Regions from separate parts of the Homo sapiens genome. Here regions 2 and 3 are each linked to region 1. Evidence: fine-mapped expression QTL. A gene starts in region 1. Each other region holds a variant in brackets. All regions are shown on one strand. Distances are from middle to middle.

The links. PIP is the estimated chance that this variant, and not a neighbour inherited with it, causes the effect.
Region 2: its variant is fine-mapped to the expression of XAF1 in whole blood (INTERVAL, PIP 0.95).
Region 3: its variant is fine-mapped to the expression of XAF1 in whole blood (TOPMed, PIP above 0.99).

Annotation. Positions count from the first base shown.
Region 1 is chr17:6,752,250-6,760,432 of GRCh38, reverse strand. It overlaps XAF1 (XIAP associated factor 1), which reads right to left and starts at 4,387. Exons shown (of 7, transcript NM_017523.5): 1 at 4,323-4,387; 2 at 2,209-2,344; 3 at 715-771; 4 at 1-27. The coding sequence starts at 4,354. RefSeq lists enhancers at 4,211-4,730, 7,709-8,003, 8,029-8,183.
Region 2 is chr17:6,779,080-6,787,262 of GRCh38, reverse strand. It overlaps FBXO39 (F-box protein 39), which reads right to left. Exons shown (of 4, transcript NM_153230.3): 2 at 6,372-7,474; 3 at 307-483. The coding sequence starts at 7,394. Among named protein-coding and RNA genes, the nearest start is that of FBXO39, 7.0 kb to the right of the region's middle. The variant A/C (reference allele first, on the strand shown) is at 3,151.
Region 3 is chr17:6,729,196-6,737,378 of GRCh38, reverse strand. No RefSeq gene overlaps it. Among named protein-coding and RNA genes, the nearest start is that of SLC13A5, 20 kb to the right of the region's middle. The variant A/G (reference allele first, on the strand shown) is at 4,142.

The DNA.
Region 1 (8,183 bases):
AACAGGGCGCTCCTGGCACTCATTGGCCTGTGGGAGGCAGCAGGAAGGGCATGATCACTGGCCCTTTTTTTTTTTTTTTTTTTTTGAGACAGAGTCTCATTGTGTTGCCCAGGCTGGAGTGCAGTGGCTTGATCTTGGCTCACTGCAACCTCCGCCTCCCGGGTTCAAGCAATTCTCCTGCCTCAGCCTCCCAAGTGGCTGGGACCACAGGCGTGTGCCACCACGCCCAGCTAATTTTTGTACTTTTAGTAGAGACGGGGTTTCACCATGTTGGTCAGGCTGGTCTCGAACTCCTGACCTCGTGATCCACCCGCCTTGGCCTCCCAAAGTGCTGGGATTACAGGCGTGTGCCACTGCGCCTGGCCGATCACTGGCCTCTTTGACTGTAGGCAGATCAAGGACTTGTGCCCATCTCCCTAGGGAATTAGGGCCAATACGAGAAAGCAGATGAGAAGGGCCAGAGTGCGGGACTGCCTTCGGGGGATCTGAGCTCTGATGGACTCATGGACCATGGAAAACCCTTCTGATCAGTATCTGGGGGACAGGAGAACCTGTGTTATGCGGTGGGCTAGTTCTCCACTGCTCTCCAAGCCTAATGGGGTGAAAAGAGTGGTCAGGTGGAAATCTCTATTACTGGCCTCCCGTTTCCCCTTCCTCTCCTTTTCTCAGGTTGGTCTATTTGGCTGTAAAGGAGAAATCACATGGGGCTCTTACCTTATGAAACTCCAGCGAGGACTTCTGCATGCTCTGCTGACACATCGTACACCCAACCTAAACACACACACACACACACACACACACACCAGATGTGGGTCCACCCAGCACCCAGGGCCTGCCCCACATCCACTTTGGCTCACAGTGTTCCGGGTTTGGGTCTGTGAACTCCCAGAGGGCAGGGATCCGATGTGGCTACCTCAGTGTCTCTCTAGCACCCCGCCCAGTGTTCAAGAAGTGTTTGTCAGACCAGTCTGAGTTGGCAACGGCTGCCTGAGCTTGAGTATCTCCAGAGAGACAGATCAGGGGCCCCAGGAGGAATGGACATGGAAAGGCGGGAAACAGGGCTCCATCTGACTGCCTTCCAGGACCTTCCTTTTTCACATCCTCTCTTTACAGATCTCAAGAGAACAGCCAGTCTTTCCTGAAACCAGAACCTCTTGCCTATGCCAGATCCATAAGCCTGTAGGGAAAGGATTGGAAATAGGAAAACTGGAGGTAGACTCAGATTAGCATGAAAAAGGCAGGATTAACATTTCCTTTCCATGGGCTTTGTGTGGAGGGGCTAAATGACTTCCCATGGCCCTCAAGTGAGTCTCTGCCTGGGGGACTGGACCCTTGCCTTAAGTCCCCAGCCCTCACCCCAACTCCCGGACCCCATCTCTCCTGCAGGGAGGACTGGAGCCATTCCCTGACTCCCAGACCCCTTCTTTCTTGCAGGGAGGATGGAACACTTGCCCCTCCCAGACCCCATCTCACCTGCAGGGAGGACTGGACCCTCGTCCCCCAACTCTCAGACCCCATCTCTCCTGCAGGGAGGACTGGACCCACTCTGTGACTCCCAGATCCCATCTCTCCTGCAGGGAAGATGGAACACTTGCCCCTCCCAGACCCCATCTCACCTGCAGGGAGGACTGAACACTCTCCTTGACTCCCAGACCCCATCTCACCTGCAGGGAGGACTAGACCCTCGTCCCCCAACTCTCAGACCCCATCTCTCCTGCAGGGAGGACTGGACCCACTCTGTGACTCCCAGACCCCATCTCTCCTGCAGGGAAGATGGAACACTTGCCCCTCCCAGACCCCATCTCACCTGCAGGGAGGACTGAACACTCGCCTTGACTCCCAGACCCCATCTCACCTGCAGAGAGGACTGAACACTCGCCTTGACTCTCAGACCCCATCTGTCCTGCAGAGAGGACTGAACACTCGCCTTGACTCCCAGACCCCATCTCACCTGCAGAGAGGACTGAACACTTGCCTTGACTCTCAGACCCCATCTCACCTGCAGAGAGGACTGAACACTCGCCTTGACTCTCAGACCCCATCTCTCCTGCAGAGAGGACTGAACACTTGCCTTGACTCCCAGACCCCATCTCACCTGCAGGGAGGACTAGACCCTCGTCCCCCAACTCTCAGACCCCATCTCACCTGCAGGGAGGACTGAACACTCACCTTGACTCTCAGACCCCATCCTCCCTGCCGCCTCCTCACCTGCTGGTGCTCAAGCTTGCAGTGCTCCTCCATGGTTTCCTTGGGGACAGGCTCCTCACACTCCGGACACAGGACCAGGAACCGCAGGCAGTAAGCCTCATGGAGGGTGAAGTTGGCAGAGACTACATGTCTTTTACTACAGGGTCAAGGTGTGGGGATAGAAAAATAGACTTATTTTCATATTATAAAACATGGAGCTGTATTTCATACCCAGGGCTAGATCTCCAGAGGCCTTAAGCACTGAACATGTGATGATGATGACACCACCTGCCCCACACTCCCTGTGTGGGTCCAAAAGTCAGAACAGTGAGGCAGCATCTAATAAGAATAAGGATGATCTACAGAGCTCTTACATTGCTGGGGCAGGGCATGGGAAGGAGCAGGAGGGAGGAATTACAAAGGGGCATGGGGAGCTTTTGGGGTGACAGGAAGCTTCATTATCTCAATTACGGGGATGGTGTTTCATGGATGTATATAACTTAGGCCAAAACTTATCAATTGCTACCCTTTAAAATGTGAGGTTTATTGTAGGTCAATTATACCTCTATAAGGCTGTTTTTAAAATGAAACATTTCATTTTAAATAATGTAAATAATTAAATTATTTCAATTTAAATAATTTGAGAGAAGTGCCAAATTCTCTTGAATCTTTTTTCTTGTTTTCTGGTGCCCCTGTTTGGTCCACAGTGTTAGGAACGCAGCCCTGCTAGGCTCACGCTTCCTGCCAGGGCCATGCCAACTTCCAAAATCTCCAAAGCGAGAGCTTCCCAAGTCTCCCCTGCCTTCAGGTTCACCTGCGCTAACTCACAGAGACTCCGAGGTTCTTCCTGGAGACCACAGTGAAGGAAGGGTTCTGAGCCTCCCACTTCCTGGGCAGGGCATTTTTCTCTAACCGTCCTTTTTGCCAAGAAGTGCCCCCTTTTGGCTGGGTGTGGTGGCTCATGCCTGTAATCCCAGCACTTTGGGAGGCCGAGGCGGGTGGATCACCTGAGGTCAGGAGTTAGAGATCAGCCTGGCCAACATGGTGAAACCTCATCTCTACTAAAACAATACAAAATTAGCCGGGCATGGCGGTGCACGCCTGTAATCCCAACTACTCGGGAGGCTGAGGCAGGAGAATCACTTGAACCCGAGAGATGAAGGTTGCAGTGAGCTGAAATCGCGCCATTGCACTCCAGGCACTCCAGCCTGGGCAAAAAGAAGCGAAACTCCATCTTAAAAAAAAAAAAAAAAGAAGAAGAAAGAAAGAAATGACTCCTTTCATTTCCATCAGCTCTTGCTTGTGGCAGCTTGGGAGAAGGGAAATGGGGTGGCTGTAGCCGTAAAGGCCCAGGGGACGAGAAGAGTTACATGCCCATGTTCCTGGCACAGGGGACGTGCTCCGAGAGGGACTGTCAAAGCCTCACTCCTCTTCTGCCCAGGCAGCGGGCACACAGGCAGCATCATCTTCCCTTCCTCTGCTCTCTCTCCTCTGCCTGACCTGGCCCCTTCTCCCCCTGCTCTTCCTGGGCTGGTTGAGAAACCAGAGTACTTGAAGGGTCTGGCTGGAGCAAAGCTCTCTGGGGAGGGTCCACTCAGGTCCCTGTCACAGGTAGGGAGCTTTGAGAATGGGGCTTTTTGATCGGTCAGATTCCGCGCCCCCCCTCCCGTTAGAGGTGTGGTCCCAGCCCCCTGCTCTGTCCCCCCTGCCCCGCCCCACGGCTCCCTTTCCAAGGAGGGTGAGAGTAGTCCTGGAGAATCTCCGTGGGACACTTTCTTTCACAGATGGGTGTGAAGGTCATAGTATCAGAACCCCAAATTAGGACCCAAGGTCTCACAAGTATGAGTAGCCCAGTTGGGACCACTGGCCGGGCTATTTGGCTTCAGAACTGTCCCAGAAAGCCTAACATTTGGGGGAAAGGGGCTGCAGTGAAGTGGAGGTAATGCTGCCCACCCCCACCCAGAGATTACCAAGTTTAAACCCTCCTACCCTTGGGGCCCACGGTCTCCAGCTGCTTGTCCTCCTAAGTGTTCTTATGCAGGAACCACTTTCTGCTCCCTTCAGAAACAGCCCTATGTCGTCTACGTCTCTCCCTCGCCAGCCCGGGTCTGCCGCTGGAGAAAGCACTTTCTTACCAGTTCCTGCACACCGAGAAGTCTCCTTCCATGTTCTGCTCTCTGCAGGCTTTCGGTTGAGTTTCGTTTCTTGCAGGCAAGGAAACAAAACTGAAAGTTTTCCGATGGCCCAGCCCACAGCTTCAGGGAGGGAGGAGATCTTCAGAATTCTCGGCTCAGGAGTTCCCCTTGATTCCTGAGGCTGGACCCTCCCAAGAAGCCCCTTTACAGCATGGCCAGCCCCTGCTGTCGCCCTTGGCCGTCATTCTTTGCTGCTGTCACAGCCGCATCTACCTCCCTGAGGCTGGCAGCCTGAGGCCAGGCCTCTCCTGGGCAGCACAGCAGCTTGTTCCCTCACCCTGGCTGGCTGGCTTCTCTCCGTCTGGGTCTCCATCCCTTTTCCAAACCATCCACCTCCCACCCTTCTCCCCCATCTCCGGCTCCCTTCTGGTCCTCCCCTGCAGGAAAGAGGGAACTTGCCATGTTGAGCTTGAATGCTGTTCCCTAAAAATGGCTCCTGGACTTCCAGGCGGTGAGGACCTTGCAAACAGCGTCCAGGGAGGCTCTGGGGATGCAGGGTGGTGTGAGCCCAGACCCAATCTGGTGTGTATCCTCCTGGGGGTCCTTAGAGTTTTTCCAGACCCTAGAAACAGCTGTGCTAACAGAAGAACTCTAAACAACATCTGGAGTGATGACAAGCAGGCCCAGAGAATTCCCGTGGCGTCTGCCAATGGGGTGGGTGCCGCCTCTCTGAGGAGGATAACAAGATTAAGGGAAATGTCCAGGCAGGGCTCCAGCCTCCAGGCAGGCTCTAAAATTCAGGCACTAAATGAGAAGCAGTGTGTGGTGGTACTGATGATCACAGTGATAGGAGGGAAGAATGAAAGACTGTTTCAACATTGTTCCTATGTTCCAGGCACCATTCTAAGCATTAGGTAGGCATTGTCTTCGTTTTAATCCCTCATGTAAGCATTATTAACTCCATTTTGCTATGGAAAACAGAGGCAGTGACAGAGTGAGACTCTGCCTCAAAAAAGAAAAATGAAATGAAAAAAGAGAAAATGGAGGCAGAGAGAGGCTAGGCCAATCGCTCAACATCAGAGCTGGGATTCACACCAGGTTGATATGACTCAGGTGTCTATGTACCTAACCAAGGCCCCATCCACCTCATTTGACAGCTAGTTGGGGTAGTGAGCACTTGGCTGAGAGTCAGAGACTGAGGTTTGCATCTTATCTTGTTCCCTTCCTCATCGGCTAGGCAAGCTCCTTAATCCTTCTGACCCTCACTACCCACTCCTGTCTGTCTCTGGGCAGTCTGTCAATATCAAGAATGAAAAACGAGTGGGCTTGGCTTGGTGGCTCATGCCTGTAATCCCAGCACTTTGGGAGGCCGAGGTGGGCGGATCACGAGGTCAGGAGTTCGAGACCAGCCCGACGAACATGGTGAAACCCCGTCTCTACTAAAAATACAAAAATTAGCTGGGTATGGTAGTGCTTGCCTATAATCCCAGCTACTCAGGAGGCTGAGGCAGGAGAATTGCTTGAACCCAGGAGGTGGAGGTTGCAGTGAGCCGAGATTGCACCACTGCACTCCAGCCTGGGCAACAGAACGAGACTCTGTCTCAAAAAAAAAAAAAAAAAAAAAGGGCTGTGCGCGGTGGCTCATGCCTGTAATCCCAGCCCTTTGAGAGGCCGAGGCGGGTTGATTATGAGGTCAGGAGATTGAGACCATCCTGGCCAACACAGTGAAACCCCGTCTCTGCTAAAAACTACAAAAAATTAGCCGGGCGAGGTGGCGGGTGCCTGTAGTCCCAGCTACTCGGGAGGCTAAGGCAGGAGAATGGCGTGAACCCAGGGTGGAGCCTGCAGTGAGCCGAGATCGCGCCACTGCACTCCAGCCTGGGCGACAGAGCGAGACTCTGTTACAAAAAAAAAAAAAAGAAAGAAAGACAGGAAGAAAGAAATGGAAAAGAAGGAAAAATGAAGAACTTTCTTTTCACATATTGTCTCCTGCTGAGATGGGATAGGGGTGGTGGCAGGGGTGTATAGATTGGACACCTTAGAGGAATGGAATGTGTGGCCAGGGGATAGGAGTGGAATTAGAAGTGACCATAAGTTGCTTCTCATCTACATCCTAATTTTCTTCCAAGATGTTTCCTCCTATAGACTGTCCCACCCACGCCAACCCTTCCCTTCCTCATCAAAATCCCAGCAGTTCTTCAGGACCAACTCCTATGCCAACACTGATCTAGAATCTACCTCCTTTGTCTCTGGCTTTGGTTAGTTGGCTGTGTGTCTATTGTCTCAACTCCTCCCCATCCAATCACAGGCATGGGCGATTTGAGAGCCAGCTCTTTCTGACCCACCACCCCTGCCTTCCTGGAGAGACCCGCGGGCTTTGTGCTTATTAGGCAGAGTGCAGTATTGAGCTTCGCAGTAGCAGGCAGTCAAATGCTGGCTGACCCGAATGGATGGGGTGTTTTGAGATAATTAAGCAGGGAGTTGGAAATCTCCCCCAACCCACACAACACCCCTGAGTCGGAGGGCTCTCAAAGTGGCAGCAATGGCCATTTTCTTTTCATTTCTCAAGATAACTTAGATTTCATAAAGAATATATGAATATACACTCTTTAAAAAAATGGAATGTTACAAATACAGCAATGTTTCTCTTTGACTGTCACGGCTGTTCCTGGGCCATCACTATTATTAATCAGAGAGTGTATGTAGGAACACTCTGGTTAGCACAAAAGCCTGTCCCCATTTCCACTACGACATCAATCGGTGCTGTGGGCTTGTATGATTTCATCATTCTGCCACCCGTCTTTGGCTGGTCGCCAACCCCAATCCCATTTAAAAAAAAAAAAACAAAAAACAGCTAGATGAGAAATGCTCTGTTGTGGGCTTAGAATTCCTTTCCAGGACACTGTGGCTACCCACTTGGCCGTTGTGGGGAGTTTCCGGCAGTCTCTTTGTGTCAGGCCTGTGGGTCAGGGGAGGGGGGTGAAGGTTGTCACAGGAAGCCAGTCTCTCAGACGTGAATTGGCCGGGCTGGCCATGTCACCTTTGCAGGAATCGGGGGGAAAGGGGAGCAGGAAGTCCTGGCTGGACTAGGACACAGGAATAATACACCCCTCCGTGCATTGTTTTGAAGATCAGAAGAGAAATTGTGTGAAAGCTGTACTTGTACAGCATGGAAGACAGGAAAGAATATTTAAAAAGGATTGTTTTAATAGTTTGGCTTTGAGAAGGGATCTTATTTAGGCTTTCTTCTTTTAAGGGATCACTATGCTAAGGAAGATGATGTAACGACAGAGATATTTCACTTCCCAGACAAAAATTATATGGTGCAATTGCACACACTTCTGTCGGTGGTGTCTTTAGAAGAATCCTGTGGTCAGAGTGGGCCTGAGTCCTGGGAGATGTGATCATATAGTCAGACTCCCCAAGCACAACGTGTTTGGATGGGAGTTCGTTTGTCAGACCACAGGAAATTGCATCAGATGACTAGTCTCTGGATGGCATTCAAGCCTGGGAATATCTGTGACTGTGTTTGGGGAAGACTCTAGGCCTGGCTGGGCAGCAAAGACGGGGAATGACCTGCTGGCTGCTGCTTAGTTGGCATATGAAGGGGAAGGAAGCTTGTCATTAAACTCATGGCAAGAAAGAGCAACTCCATGGCATTCTGTCTGTGTGGGGAGTGACCAGTACTTTTCTCTTCCTTTCTTTCTTTGAGAAGTCTCTTTTCACACATTCATAGTTTTGTTTTTGTTTTTTTCTTTTTCCTGGTTAAAACATCTCACCCACTTCCCCTGCCAACCCATTCCCGTCCAATCAGCAATCACAGTCCAAATGTCAAGGTCTCTTCCCTGATGTTTACAAGGG
Region 2 (8,183 bases), 27 kb before region 1:
CACACACGCACACACACACACACATACACACACACACACGGTGACTACACTTTTCAGGGCTTGACAGCAACTTAAATGATCTACACATACAGTTGTTGAATCAGGAAAATATGTTGGCAGAATCAGAAAAAGACCAAACCCAACTACTAGAAAAGAGAGCTCCAGATTCCCTTCTTTGAAACTGCTGATTTTCAATGAACAGATGATTGTCCCCCACTGCCTTATTCAGCCCTTCGTTCCAGAGCAGAAGCACCATTCCTGGATGCCCCCACTCTACGCCGTGGAACCAGCCTGGGGACCTCTTACCTTGAATACACGCAGGGCACACTGCCGTTCTTTCTGACTCTTCAGGATCCGCTCCACAAAACTAACATCAAGGAAAGCCCAGATTTTGAAGTAAAACAACTTCCTGCAGGATATGATGAGGAGGTGCAGCTCCTCGTCGAGTGACTCATGGTTGTTGTTGAATTCACAAGTTAATTTCTGGAAGAGCACCAAAAGGGAAGATGTGTGTGGGCAGAGATGCTGAGCCTGGCTGAGTTGTTCTGTAACATTTCCACGACCTGGCTCTGGGCCTGATAGCCATGATGATTTGGGGGTTTTTAACTTTAATTTTTAATTTTTGTGGTACATAGGTACATATATTTATGGGGTATATGGGATATTTTGATGTAGGCATACAATGTGTAATAATCACAATGGGGTAAATAGAGTATCCATGACTTCAAGCATTTATCCTTTGTGTTACAAACAATCCAATTATACTCTTTTAGTTTTTAAAAAATGTACAATTAAATGATGATTGACTATAGACACCCTGTCGTGCTATCAAATACTAGATCTTGTTCATTCTTTCTAACTTTTTTTGTACCCATTAGCCATCCCCACTTCCCTCTGCACCCCCTACTACCCTTCCCAGCCTCTGGTAAGCGTCCTTCTACTCTCTATCTCCATGAGTTGAATTGTTTTAATTTTTAGCTCCCACAAATAAGTGAGAACATGCAAAGTTTGTCCTTCGGTGCCTAGCATATTTCACTTAACATAACAACCTCAGTTGCATCTATGTTATTGCAAACAACAGAATCTCATTCTTTTTTGTGACTGAATAGTACTCCATTGTGTACATGTACCACATTTTCTTTATCCATTGATGGACACTTAGGTTGCTTCCAAATATTGGCTATTGTGAACAGTGCTGCAATAAACATGAGAGTGCAGACATCTCTTTGATATATTGACTTTCTTTCTTTGGGGTATACACCTAGCAGTGGGATTGCTGGATCATATGTAAGCTCTATTTTTAGTTTTTTGAGGAACCTCCAAACTGTTCTCTACAGTGGCTGTACTACTTTAAATTCCCACCAACTGTGTATGAGAATTTCCTTTTCTCTACATCCTTTCCAGCATTTGCTATTGCCTGTCTTTTGAATAAAAATCGTTTTAACTGGGGTGAGATAATATCTCATTGTGGTTTTGATTTGCATTTCTCTGATGATCAGTGATGTTGAGCACCTTTTAATATACTTATTTTGCCATTTATATGTCTTCTTTTGAGAAATATCTGTTCAAGTCTTTTGCCTATTTTTTAATTGGATTACTATTTTTTTTTCCTATAGAGTTGTTTGAGCTCTGTATATTCTGTTTATTTATTAATCCCTTGTGATATGGGTAGCTTACAGATATTTTCTCCCATTCTTCCTGTGGGTTGTCTCTTCACTTTGTTGATTGTTTCCTTCATTGTACAGAAACTTTTTAACTTGATGTGATCCCATTTGTCTATGTTTGCTTAGATTGCCTGTGCTTGTGGGTATTGCTCAAGAAGTCTTTGCCCAGTTCAATGCCCTGGAGAGTTTCCCCAATGTTTTCTTGTAGCAGTTTCATAGTTTGAGGTCTTAGATTGAAGTCTTTAGTCCATTTTGATTTGATTTTCATATATGGCAAGAGATAGTGGTCTAGTTTCATTCTTCTGCATATGGCTATCCAGTTTTCCTAGCACCATTTACTGAAGAGGAGATCGTCCTTTTCCCAATGTATGGTTTTGGCATCTTTGTCAAACATGAGTTCACTACAGATGAATGAATTTGTTTCTGGGTTCTCTATTCTGTTCCATTGGTCTTTATGGGATTAATAAATAACCAGAATATATAAGGGGCTTAAAATCTGTTTTTATGTCAGTCTCATGCTGTTTTAGTGACTATAGCTCTGTAATATAATTTGAAGTCAGGTAATGTGGTTTCTACAGTTTTGTTCTTTTTGGTCAGGACAGCTTTAGCTATTCTGCATCTTTTGTGGTTCCATATATATATATACACACACACACACACACACACACATATATATATATAAATTTAAGATTCTTTGTTCTATTTCTGTGAAGAATGTCATTGGTATTTGGATAGGATTGCACTGAATCTGTAGATGGCTTTCGATAGTATAAACATTTTGACAACATTGATTCTTCCAACTCATGAACATAGAATATCTTTCCATTTTTTTGTGTCCTTTTCAATTTCTTGCATCAATATTTTATAATTTTCATTGTAGAGATCTTTCATTCCTTCGGTTAATTCCTAGGTATTTAATTTTATTTGTAGCTATTATAAACAGGATTACTTTCTTGATTTCTTTTTCAGATTGTTCACTGTTGGCATATAGAAATGCTACTGATTTTTATATGTTGATTTTGTATCCTGCAACTTTACTGAATTTGTTTAGCTGATAGTTTTTTTTGTTTTTGTTTTTGGTGGAGTCTTTAGGTTTTTCCAAATATAAGATCATATCATCTTCAAACAAGAATTATTTGACTTCATTTTCTATTTGGGTGCCCTTTATTTCTCTCATCTGATTGCTCTAGCTAGGACTTCCAGTACTATGTTGAATGGCAGTGGTAACAGTGGCATCCTTGCTCTGTTCTGGATCTTAAAGAAAAGGCTTTCAGTTTTTCTCCATTCAATATGATACTAGTTGTGGGTCTGTCATATATGGCTTTTATTGTATTGAGGTATGCTCCTTCTATACCCAGTTTTTTGAGAGTTTTAATCATGAAGGAATGTTGAATTTTATCAAATGCTTTTACAGCATTAATTAAAATAATCATATGCTTTTTGTTCTTCATTCTGTTGTTATGAGGTGTCACACTGATTTATTTGC[A/C]TATTTTGAACCATTCTTGCATCCCTGGGATAAATCCCACTTGGTCAGGATGAATGATCTTTGTAATGTGTTGTCGAATTTGGTTTGCCAATAATTTGTTGAGGAATTTTCCATCAATGTTTATTAGGAATATTCACCTATAGTTTTCTTGTTTTTGATGTGTCTTTATCTGGCTTTGGTATCAGGGTAATATCAGCCTTGTAGAATGAGTTTAGAATTATTCCCTCTGCTTCTATTTTTCTGGAATGGTTTGAGTAGGATTGGTATTAGTTCTTCTGTAAATGTTTGATAAAATTGATAAAATTCAGCAGTACAGCCATCAGGTCAAGGGCTTTTCTTTGCTTGGGGACTTTTTATTACAGCTTCTATCTTGTTACTTGTCAATGGTCTGTTCAGGTTCTGGATTTCTTCATGGTTCAATCTTGGTAGTTTGTACGTGTGTAGGAATTTATCCATGTCTTCTGGGTTTTCCAATTTATTGGCATATAGTTGCTCGTTATAGGCTCTAATTATCCTTTGTATTTCTCTGGTATTGGTTGTAATGTCTCCTTTTTCATCTCTTGATTTTATTTATTTGGGTCTTCTCTCATTTTTTCTTATTTTTGCTAATGGTTTGTTAATTTTGTTTATTTTTCAAAAAGCTTTTATTTCACTGATCTTTTGCATTATTTGTTTCACTTTCACTCATTTCTGCTCCAATCTTTATTATTTCTTCTCTTCTACCAATTATGGGATTGGTTTGCTCTTGGTTTTTTCAGTCCTTTAAAGTGTGTCATTAGAATGTTTATTTGAAGTTTTTCTTCTTTTTTGATGTAGGCGCTTATAGCTATAAACTTCCCTCTTAGTATTGCTCACTGTATCCCACAGGTTTTGGTAGCTGTGTCTGCATATTGTTTGTTTCAAAAATATTTCAATTTCCTTCTTAATCTCTTCATGACCAACTGGTCATTCAGGAGCATATTGTTTAATTTCCATGTCTTCATATAATTTCCAAAGTTTCTCGTTATTAATTTCTAGTTTTATTCTGTTGTGGTCAGAGAAGATGCTTGCTATAATTTCAATTTTTTGACTGTTTTAAGACTTTTTTGTGACCTAACATATGGCCTATTCTTGTGAATGATCCATGTGCTAAAGAGAAGAGTGTGTGTTCTTCAGCCATTGGATGAAATTTTCTGTAAATATCCTTTAGGCCCTTTTGGTCTATAATGCAAATTAAGTCTGCTGTTTCTTTGTTGATTTTGTGTCTTGAAGATCTACCCAATACAGAAAGGAGGGTGTTGAAGTCTCTAGCTGTTATTATATAGGGGTCTATCTCTCTCTTTAGCTCTAATAATATTTGCTTTATATGTCTGGGTGCTCTGGTGTTGACTGCATATATACTTACAATTGTTATATCCTCTTGCTGAATTGACTCTTTTATTATTATATAATGACTCTGTCTCTTTTTATAGATTTTGTCTTGAAATCTATTTTGTCTGATATAAGTATAGCTACTCCTCCTCTTTTTTGGTTTCCATCGGCATTAAATATCATTTCCCATCTCTTTATTTTCAGTCTATGTGTGTCTTTATAGGTGAAATGTGTTACTTGTAGGCAGCAGATAATTGAGTCTTTCTTTTTAATCTGTTCAGCCACCTATGTCTTTTGATTGGAGGGTTTAGTCCATTTGTATTCAATGTTATTACTAAGTAGGGACTTACTCGGGACATTTCGTTATTTGTTTTCTGGTTTTTTGCGGTCTTCTCTTCCTTCTTTTCTTCCTTCCTGTGTTCCTTTTAGGGAAGGTGATTTTCTCTGGAGGTATGTTTCATGTCTTGCTTTTTATTTTATCTGTTGTATGTTTTTAGATTTGAGGTTATCATGAAGCTTGCAAACAATATCTTGTAACTCATTATTTTAAATTGATGACAACTTAACACTATTGCATAAACAAACTAATAAACAGCAAAACTAAAACTAATAAAAACTTTTTACCTTAACTTTGTCTCCCTACTGTTTAACTTTTTGTTATTTCTGTTTGTATCTTACTGTACTGTCTATGTCTTGAAAAGTTGTTGTTGTTATTATTTTCGATCAGCTTATATGTTTGTCTTTCTACGTAAGATATGAGTAGTTTACTCACACAATTCCAGTGTTACAATATTCTGTGTTTTTCTATGTACTTACTATTACCAGTAAGTAATAGTAAGTATACGTCTTGTACCTTCAGATGATTTCTTATTGCTCATTAATGCCTTTTTCTTTCAGATTGAAGAACTCCCTTTAGCATTTCTTGTAGGACAGGTCTGGTGTTAATGGAATTTGGGGGCTTTTTAGATAAGGGACATTGGACATGTAGTTCTTAGAGGAAGAGATTTGAGAATGATGGTGATCTCATCCAAGGTTGCAAAACTTGGAATTTGGAGGCAGTGTACTTGGAGTATACAAGGTGCTCGTCCCAGCCCTGCAGTGGACTGGCTGGGTGACTGTGGGCTGGTCATTGAACCTCAAGTTCTTCTGCAGCACACAAGGGTCATGATGATGTCTGCCGTACCCCACCTTTGGTTTATGTGGGTACCTAATGAGGTATTAGCACCTTGGAGTCCATCCATGTTTGTAGAGATACATAAACCTGTTAATATCAGTTGTCACAACCACTGTGAGGTCCTTGGAAAGACAAAATGATCCTGATCTTACAGGTGAGAAAGCTACTAGATTAGGGAACAACCCAGAAACTCTGAGCTCTTCGGTTGTGTAAATCAAATTTGACTTTTTGTCTGGCCTGGTCCTCCCCATTCTATCTCCCCAATTACCAGGCACTGGCACTGCTATAACCAGACAGATCCCCCACTGAGATCTGACCATAGGAGCCACAGGGTCTCCTGCATGCTGCTGTGACCTCGTGGAAAAGTAGGAAGAGGCAGCCCAGCCGCTATTCGCCTGCAAGGCACCTCCTGGCTCAGGCTTCATAGCTCTGAGTGGGGACTTAGGGGTTTTCCCTAGCTGACAGCTAACCAGATAATTCCTTGTGTCTGTACCACATGTAGGAAGTGAGTAGCAGCTTCTGTTGCCTACTGTGGTCTTGGGAGGAGGGCAGGAGGCTTAGTTGGTGGTATTTCCTAGAACTTCAATTTGAGATTGAGTGAACATTTGGGAGCCTAGCCAAGAGCAGGCAGCAGTGGGCTTTCTTCTGGGGAAGCCAGTCACCTGAACAGCAGTCACTCCTCACAAGTCCTACCTACCTGCAGAGTGTGCCGGAAGGTGGGCAGGAGATCTATCAGAGTGGGTCTCATTGAACAGTCTGGGTCACTGAAATAGCAGCTTCTCAGACTGATGCTCCTGATCGGGATCTCCTGCAAGAGGATTCGGGCCAAGCGTTCGTACTTCATGATCCGTTCAAAGAAGAAGTTCACCTTCAGATTGGTGGCCTGCCTGGCCAGCTTGGCCCAGGACATACCCCAGATGACCTGTCCGTGGGGGTCATGAACGTGGCATTTGATGTTGATGGTCCGGAGGGTGCTGGCATTCTCACACAAGTTCTCAAGCAGCTCGTCGGAGATACAGTTGTAGTTGAGGTTCAGGGACACAAGATTGTGGAATGTGGACATGGTCTTTTTGAACTGGGGGCTGTTGTAGACAGCAAGGTGATGGCTGAAATAGTCCTCGATGTTGAGCTCTGAGATCACATTCTCATTCCTCATGTAGCTGAGGGAGTCGAGAATTTGGCAGCCTTGCTCCACGGTCAGCCTGGCCCCTTTTAGGTTGAGATAATCCAGGCGTTTGCCCATCTTCTTTAAGAAGAAGCTCAAGCTGCTGATGAATGAGCTCCTGATGCTGTTCCTCCATACCAGGCGGTCCAGCTCCAGGTATTGGATGGAAAGAGATTTCAGACGGTTGTTGCTCTTACTCAGACAAGACAGGAGGCCCCGCATGGTGACCTGGAACTTCTTGGTCAAGACAGCATTGTAAGGATTCATGAATTTGACCTCCAGGTGCTCCAGATAACGACCAAACTTCTTAACATACCAAACAGCTGACTCAACTTCAGATGCATGTACCCTGGAAGGTCTCCCGCTGAAGGTGATGGTTCTGTACCGCCAGAGCTCAGCAGAATACATCATCTGGTTCCACTTTCTGCAGACAAGAGCAGCCCTGGACCTGTCCCTGTCTCCTAGCCACCAGAAAACACGGCACAGACACAAATCGGGCAGAAAGGCCCAGCAGCTCTGGTCTTGGGGCTGGATCAGTTCACTTTCTTCGTCCATCCAGGAACTGGGATGTACAGTGCAGCTGTGTGTTAGGCAGGGCTTCCAAAAATGAGGAAAGGAAAGCAATCACTTGCTTTCTGTGGGGAATAAAAAGGAAGAGCCATTACCTGTCAAACAGAGATTAAACTCAAATGAACCAGCTTTCCCTGTGGTCCCAAGTGCATTAGGCACTGTGCCAGGTGTGGGTGGTTCAATGATACATTCATGACACAGTCCACACCTGCAAGGATTTCACAGTCTATCCAGGGATACAGACCAGTACTCAATTATAACCCTGTGAGAGAGCAGGAAGGTTCAGGCAGACTCATAGTGTGGGGTAGCACACATGCAGGGTGACTTACTCTGTTTGACTAAATATAGTGTTTGGAAGTAGAGAGGGCTGCTCAGAGGAAGCGACGTCTGAGTTGGGTTTTGAAGGGTGAGTAGGATTTGCAAGGCAGATCAGGTGGGCCTAGTGGTAGTGGATGAGGAGCTGATGCATTCTGGGCAGAGGGAACAATACGTGCAAAGCCACAGAACTGTGAATGTATGTGATGTGTTCCCATTCAGGGAGCTAAAAATGGTTTGGTCACCTGGCACTTAACTTGTTAAGTGGGCTGGAAATGGAGGAACTGGATCACGTGGGAGCAGTGGGAAGTGCTGGATCAAGGGGTCCTGCGTGATGTGATAAAGATTATGTCCTAGAGGCCAGAGAGTCCCACTTCCCCTTTCCCCAAGATTCTGGAATTCTGACATGGCCTGTCCCCTTCCTGTATCTAGCTACATTGCTGACAGTTGTGTAAAATT
Region 3 (8,183 bases), 23 kb after region 1:
CAACTGAAGATCCACAAAAAAAGTGAAAATAGCCTTAACTGATGACATTCCACCATTGTGATTTATTTCTGCCCCAACCTAACTGATCAATGTACTTTATAATCTCCCCCACCCTTAAGAAGTTTCTTTGTAATTCCCCCCACCCTTGAGAATGTACTTTGTGAGATCCGCGCCCTGTCCCCAAAATATTGCTCTTAACTCCACTGCCTATCCCAGAACCCATAAGAACTAATGATAATCCCACCATCCTTTGCTGACTCCTTTTTTGGACTCAGTCTGCCTGCACCCAGGTGAAATAAACAGCCTTGCTGCTCACACAAAGCCCGTTTGGTCCTCTCTTCACATGGACACGTGAAACATTTGGTGCCGAAGATCCGGGTCAGTGGGACTCCTTCAGGAGACCAGTCCCCTGTCTTCACCCTCACTCCGTGAAGAGATCCACCTATGACCTCAAGTCCTCAGACCAACCAGCCCAAGGAACATCTCGCCGATTTTAAATCGGGTAAGTGGCCTCTTTTTACTCTCTTCTCCAACCTCTCTCACTATCCCTCAACCTCTTTCTCCTTTCAATCTTGGTGCCATGCTTCAATCTCTCCCTTCTCTTAATTTCAATTCCTTTCATTTTCTGGTAGAGACAAAGGAGACACATTTTATCTGTGGAACCAAAACTCCGGCGCTGGTCACGGACTCGGGAAGGCAGCCTTCCCCTGGTGTTTAATCATTGCGGGGACGCCTCTCTGATTATTCACCCACATTCCATTGGTGTCTGATCTCCGCAGGGACACCTGCCTTGGTCATTCACCCACATTCCCTTGGTGGCAAGTCAATTGCGGGGACGCCTGCTTTGGCTGCTCACCCACGTTGCAGCCCAGGGCTGCTCCCCACCCGCCTTCTCTGTGTCTCTACCCTTCTCTTTACACTTGCCTCCTTCACTATGGGCAAACTTCCACCCTCCATTCCTCCTTCTTCTCCCTTAGCCTGTGTTCTCAAGAACTTAAAACCTCTTCAACTCTTGCCTGACCTAAAATCTAAGTGTCTTATTTTCTTCTGCAATACCGCTTGACCCCAATACAAACTCAATAATGGTTCTAAATAGCCAGAAATCGGCACTTTTGATTTCTCCATTTTACAAGATCTAGATAATTTTCGTCAAAAATGGGCAAAAGGTGTGAGGTGCCTGACGTCCAGGCATTCTTTTACACATCGGTCCCTCCCTAGTCTCTGCTCCCAATGAGACTTGTCCCAAATCTTTCTTCTTTCTCTCCTGTCTGTTCCTTCAGTCTCCACCCCAAGATATGAGTCCTTTGAATCCTTCTTTTCTATGGACTCATCTGACCTCTCCCCTTCTCCCCAGGCTGCTCCTTGCCAGGCCAAGCCAGGTCCCAATTCTTCCTCAGCCTCTGCTCCCCAACCCTAAAATCCTTCAATCACCTCCCCTCCTCACACCGGTCTGGCTTCCAATTTTGTTCCCACGACTAGCCCTCCCCACCTGCCCAACAATTTCCTCTTAGAGAGGTGGCTGGAGCTGAAGGCATAGTCAGGGTACATGTGCCTTTTTCTCGATCAGACCTTTCCCAAATCAGCCAGCGTTTAGGCTCTTTCTCATCAGACCCCACTAAATATATACTGGAATTCCGATATCTAAATCTGTCTTACAGTTTAACCTGGAATGACTTAAATGTCATCCTAACTTCTACCCTCTCCCCAAATGAACGGGAAAGAGTTTTTTCTCTAGCCCAATTTCACACTGATAACTGCCAGCTTCATGAGCCAGACCTCCATGAAGGCATTAGAGCAGTTCCCCGAGAAGATCCCAATGGAACTATCAGGCAAATTCCCCAGGTATAGCTAGGCGAGATTACATGGTTTCCTGCCTAGTTGAAGGGCTTAAAAAGGCAGCTTACAAAGCTGTTAATTAAGACAAACTTAAAGGAACTACTCAAGGTAAAGACGAAAACCCAGCCCAGTTCATGGCCTGCTTAGGAGCAACCCTTAGACTCTTTACAGCCCCAGATCCTGAAAGGTCAGAAGGCTGTCTTATTCTCAATATGCATTTTATTTTATTACCCAATCTGTTCCCAACATTAAATAAAGCTCCAAAAATTAAATTCCAGCCCTCAAACCCCACAACAGGACTTAATTAGGTGTACAATAATAGAGTAGAGGCAGCCAAGTAGCAATGTATTTCTGAGTTGCAATTCCTTGCCTCCGCTGTGAGACAAACCCCAGCCACATCTCCAGCACACAAGAACTCCAAACACCTGAACCGCAGCTGCCAGGGGTTCCTCTAGAACCTCCTCCCTCAGGAGCTTGCTACAAGTGCCAGAAATCTGGCCACTGGGCCAAGGAATGCCCGCAGCCTGGGATTCCTCCTAAGCTGTGTCCCATCTATGTGAGTCCCCACTGGAAACTGGACTGTCCAACTGGCCCGAGGCTCTGACTGACTCCTTCCCATATCTTCTCGGCTTAGCAGCTGAAGACTGACACTGCCCGATCGCCTCAGAAGCCTCCTGGACCATCGCGGATGCTTTGGGTAACTCTTACAGTGGAGGGTAAGTCCGTCCCCTTCTTAAGCAATACGGAGGCTACCCACTCCACATTACCTTCTTTTCAAGGGTGTATTTCCCTTGCCTCCATAACTGTTGTGGGTATTGACGGCCAGGCTTCTAAACCTCTTAAAACTCCCCAACTCTGGTGCCAACATGGACATTCTTTTATGCACTCTTTTTTAGTTATCCCCACCTGCCTAGAGCTCCCTTATTAGGTCGAGACATTTTAACTAAATTATCTACTTTCCTGACTATTCCTGGGCTACAGCCACACCTCATTGCTGCTTTTTCCCCAGTTCAAAGCCTCCTTCGCATCCTCCTCTCATATACCCCCACCTTAATCCACAAGTATAGGACACCTCTACCCCCTCCTTGGCGACTGATCATGCACCTCTTACCATCCCATTAAAACCTAATCACCCTTACCCTGCTCAATGCCAATATCCCATCCCACAGCATGCTTTAAAAGGATTAAAGCCTGTTATCACTCGCCTGTTACAGCTTGGGCTTTTAAAGCCTGTAAACTCTCCTTACAATTCCCCTGTTTTACCTGTCCAAAAACTGGACAAGCCTTACAGGTTAGTTCAGGATCTGGCCTTACCAACCAAATTGTCTGGCCTATCCACCCCGTGATGCCAAAGCCATATACTCTCCTATCCTCAATACCTCCCTCCACAACCCCTCCATAACCCATTATTCTGTTCTGGATCTCAAACATGCTTTCTTTACTATTCCTTTGCACCCTTCATCCCAGCCTCTCTTCGCTTTCACTTGGACTGACCCTGACACCCATCAGGCTCAACAAATTACCTAGGCTGTACTGCTGCAAGGCTTCACGGACAGCCCCCATGACTTCAGTTAAGCCCAAATTTCTTCCTCATCTGTTACCTATCTCAGCATAATTGTTCACGAAAACACACATGCTCTGCCTGCTGATCATGTCCAGCTAATTCCCCAAACCCCAATCCCTTCTACAAAACAACTCCTCTCCTTCCTACGCATGGTTAGGTACTTCCGCCTTTGGATACCTAGCTTTACCATCCTGACTAAACCATTATGTAAACTCACAAAACCAAACCCAGCTGACCCCATAGATCCTAAATCCCTTTGCCACTCCTTTCCGTTCCTTAAAAACAGCCCTAGAAGCTGCCCCCACACTAGCTCTCCCTAACTCATTCCAAACCTTTTTCATTACACACAGCCAAAGTGCAGGGCTGTGCAATCGGAGTTCTTACACAAAAGCCAGGACCGCACCCTGTAGCCTTTCTGTCCAAACAACTTGACCTTACTGTTTTAGCCTAGCCCTCATGTCTGCATGCGGTGGCTGCTGCTGCCCTAATACTTCCAGAGGCCCTCAAAATCACAAACTTTGCTCAACTCACTCTATACAGTTCTCATAACTTCCAAAATCTATTTTCTTCCTCACACCTGACACATACACTTTCTGCTCCCTGGCTCCTTCAGCTGTACTCACTCTTTGTTGAGTCTCCCACAATTACCATTGTTCCTGGCCTGGACTTCAATCCGGCCTCCCACATTATTCCTGATACCACACCTGGCCCCCATGACTGTATCTCTCTGATACACTTGGC[A/G]TTCACTTCATTTCCCCATGTTTCCTTCTTTCCTGTTCCTCACCCTGATCACACTTGGTTTATTGATGGCAGTTCCACCAGGCCTAATCGCCAAACACCAGCAAAGGCAGGCTATGCTATAGTATCTTCCACATCTATCATTGAGGCTACCGCTGTGCCCCATCTCCACTACCTCTCAGCAAGCCGAACTCATTACCTTAACTTGGGCCCTCACTCTTGCAAAGGGACTATGCGTTGGTATTTATACTGACCCCATATCCTGCACCACCATGCTCTTTTATCAGTTTCTTCTATTAATTGATTTTCCAATTTGTTGGCATACAATTTCTCATTATAGCCACTAATGATCCTTTGGATTTCTGCAGCATTGGTTTTGGTGACTCCTTTTATTATCTCTGATTTTATTCATTTGGGTCTTCTGTATTTTTTTTTCTCAGTTAGTGTGGCTGAAGCTTTGTCAACTTTGTTTATCTTTTCAAAAAAACCAACTTTTCATTTCATTGATCTTCTGTAGTGTTTTCTTCATTTCAACTTCAGTTATTTCTGCTCCGATGTTTATTATTTCTTTTTTCTACAAATTTAGGATTTGGTTTGCTCTTGCTTTTCTAGTTTTTTAAGAGGTGTCATTAGATTGTTTATTTGAAGTTTTTCTACTTTTTTGACGTAAGTGCTTATTATAGCTACACACTTTCCTCCTAGTACTGCTTTCACTGTATCCCACAGGTTTTGGCATATTGTTCCTGTTATTTTTTCAAGAAATTTTTCAATTTTCTTCTTAATCTCTTAATTGGTACACAGGTCATTCAGAAGCATATTGTTTAATTTCCATGTGTTTTTATAATTTCCAAAATTTCTCTTGTTATTGATTTCTAGTTATATTTTATTGTGGTCGGAGAAGATACTTCATATTATTTCAATCCTTTGGAGTGTTTTAAAGCTTTTTTTGTAGGCTAACATATCTCTCCTTGAGAACAGTGCCAAGGAGAAGAATACATATTCTGTAGCCATTGGATGAAATATTCTATAAATATCTGTTAGGTCCATTTGGTCTATAGTGCAGATTAAGTCCAATTTTTTTTTATTGATTTTCTGTTTGGATGATCTGTCCGCTGCTGGAAGTAGGGTACTGAAGTATCCAGTAGTTATTTTATTGAGTCTATCTCTCTCTTTAGTTCTAATAATACCTTCTTTATACATCTGGGTGCTCCAGTGTTGGGTGCATATATTTTTATAATCATTATATTTTCTTGCTGAATTAACCTCTTTATTGTTATGTAATGGCCTTCTTTGTCTCTTTTTACAGCTTTTGTCTTAAAATATAATTTTGATATAGTTATAGCTACTCCTTCTCTTTTTTGGTTTCCATTGGTAAGGAATATCTTTTTCCACCCCTTTATTTTCAGTCTATGTGTGTCTTTTTAGGTGAAGTGTGTTTCTTGTGGGCAACAAATTATTGGGTCTTGTTTTTTCACCCATTCAGCCACTCTACGTCTTTTGATTGGAGAGTTCCGTCCATTTACATTCAACGTTATTATTGATAAGTAAGGACTTACTCCTGCCATGTTGTTATTTGTTTTCTGGTTGCTTTGTGGTCTTTTCTTCCTTCCTGTGTTCTTTTTGGTGAAGGTCATTTTCTCTGGTGGTATGTTTTAGTTTCTCATTTTTAATTTTTGTGTATCTGTTGGTTTTTGGTTTGAAGTTACCATGAGGCTTGCAAATAATACATTATAACCCATTATTTTAAACTGATGTCAAATTAATGCTGATTGCATAAACAAACAAGCAAGCAAAGAGAAAACTAATAAAAACTCTACACTTTAACTTCATCCTCCACTATTTAACTTTTTGTTGCTTCTATTTATATCTTATTCTACTATGTCTTTAAAGAGTTGTTGTAGTTATTATTTTTGATTAGTTCATCTTTTAGTCTTTCTACTTAAGATATGAATAGTTTCAACACCACAATTACAGTGTTATAATATTCTGTGTTTTTCTGTGTATTTAATGTTACCAGTGAGTTCTGTACTTTCAGATGATTTCTTATGGCTCATTAACGTCCTTTTCTTTCGGATTGAAGAACTCTCTTTAGCATTTATTTCCTTCAGACAGCTCTGATGTTAATGAAATCTCTCTGTTTTTATTTGTCTGGGAAAGTCTCCATTTGTCTTTCATGCTTGAAGGATATGTTCACTAGATATACTATTCTAGGGTAAAAGTTTTTTCCTTCAGCACATTAAATATGCTATGCCACTCTCTTCTGGTCTGCAAGGTTCCCACTGAAAAGTCTGCTGCCAGATGTATTGCGGCTCCATTGTATGTTATTTGTGTTTTTTCTCTTGCTGTTTTTAGGATCCTTTCTTTACCCTTGACCTTTGGGAGTTTGACTATTAAATGCCTAGAGGTAGTCTTTTTTGTGGGTTAAATCTGCTTGGTTTTTCTATAACCTTACTGTACTTGAATATTGATATCTTTCTCTATGTTTGGGAAGTTCTCTGTTATTATCCTTTTGAATAAACTTTCTACCTCTACCTCCTCTTTAACACCAATAACTCATAGATTTGCCCTTTTGAGCCTATTTTCTAATTCTTGTAGGTGTGCTTCATTCTTTTGTCTGTTGACTCCTTCAACTATGAATTTTCAGATAGCCTGTCTTCAAACTCACTGATTTTTTCTTCTGCTTGGCCAATCCTGCAAAAGCCACAGTGTTACTGGGCTTGGGATGCCTCAAGTGCAGATACAGTTGCGGTGACCAAAATTTTAGATCAGAAAACCCAAGTCCCTCCAAATTCTTGGAAAGCCTACCCAAGAAGTATGGGTACAAACAAGCTCTGACTGCAAAGGCTACAATAAATACCTAATTCTTCAATGCCGAGACACCAATGAACGTTTATAAGCATCAAGAACATCTGGGAAAATGTGACCTCACCAAATGAACTAAATAAGGAACCAGGGGCCAATCCCAGAGATACAGAAATATGTGACCTTTCAGACAGATAATTCAAAATAGCTGGGGTTTTTTTTTCCATGACACAGCCTTCAGGAGGTCCTGAGAACATGTGCCCCAAAATAGCTGTTTTGAGGAAACTCAATGAAATTTAAGATAACACAAAGAAGGAATTTAGAATTTTATCAGATACATCTAACAAAGAGATTTAAACAATTAAAAAGAATCAAGCAGAAATTCTGGAGTTGAAAAATGTATCTGTCATACTCAAGAAAGCATCAGACTCTCTTAATAGCAGAATTGATCTGCCTTGTGGTCTTTGATGAGATCTGAAAGAATTCTCTGGGTTACTAGGCAGAGGCTCTTGCTCTCTTCCCTTACTTTTTCCCAAATAAAGAGCTTATCTCTCTTTGCTGATCTGCCTGCAGCTGGGGCAGGAGTGACACAAGCACCTCTGTTGTCTCCGCCACTGGAATTGCACTTGGTTAGACCTGAAGCCAGCCTAGCCCTGGGTCTCGTCAAGGCCCACTGTGACCACTATCTGGATACCACCTATGTTCGCTCAAGGCCCTAGAGCCGTGCAATTAGTAAGTAGTAAAGCTAGCCAGACTCATGTCTTTCCTTTCAGGACAGCAAGTTCTCCCAGCCCTGGGGAGGTCCAGAGATGCTATCTAGAAGCCAGTACCTGGAGTCAGAAATTTTAGGAATTTGCCTGGTGTTGTACTGCTGCTGAACTGACACCCAAGCCCCATGTCAAAATCTTCCCCACTCTTTCTTTCCCTTTCCACAAGCAGAGGAGTCTCTCCCCATGGCCACCACCACCACAGGCCCACAGGGTCAAAGGTGGGGTACTGCTAGGATACCACCAATGTTCACTCAAGGCCCAAGGGCTCTTCAGCCTGCTTGTGGTGAATGCTACCAGGCCTGGGTCTCACTCTTCAGGGCGGTGGGCTCCCTTCTGGCCCAGGGCAGGTCCAGAAATGCCATCTAAGGGCGTAGCCTGGGATCAGGAACCATAAGTGCCTGCTTGGTGCTCTACTCTACCATGGCTGAGGTGGTACCTATGCTGTAAGACAAAGTCCATTTTACTCTGCTTTA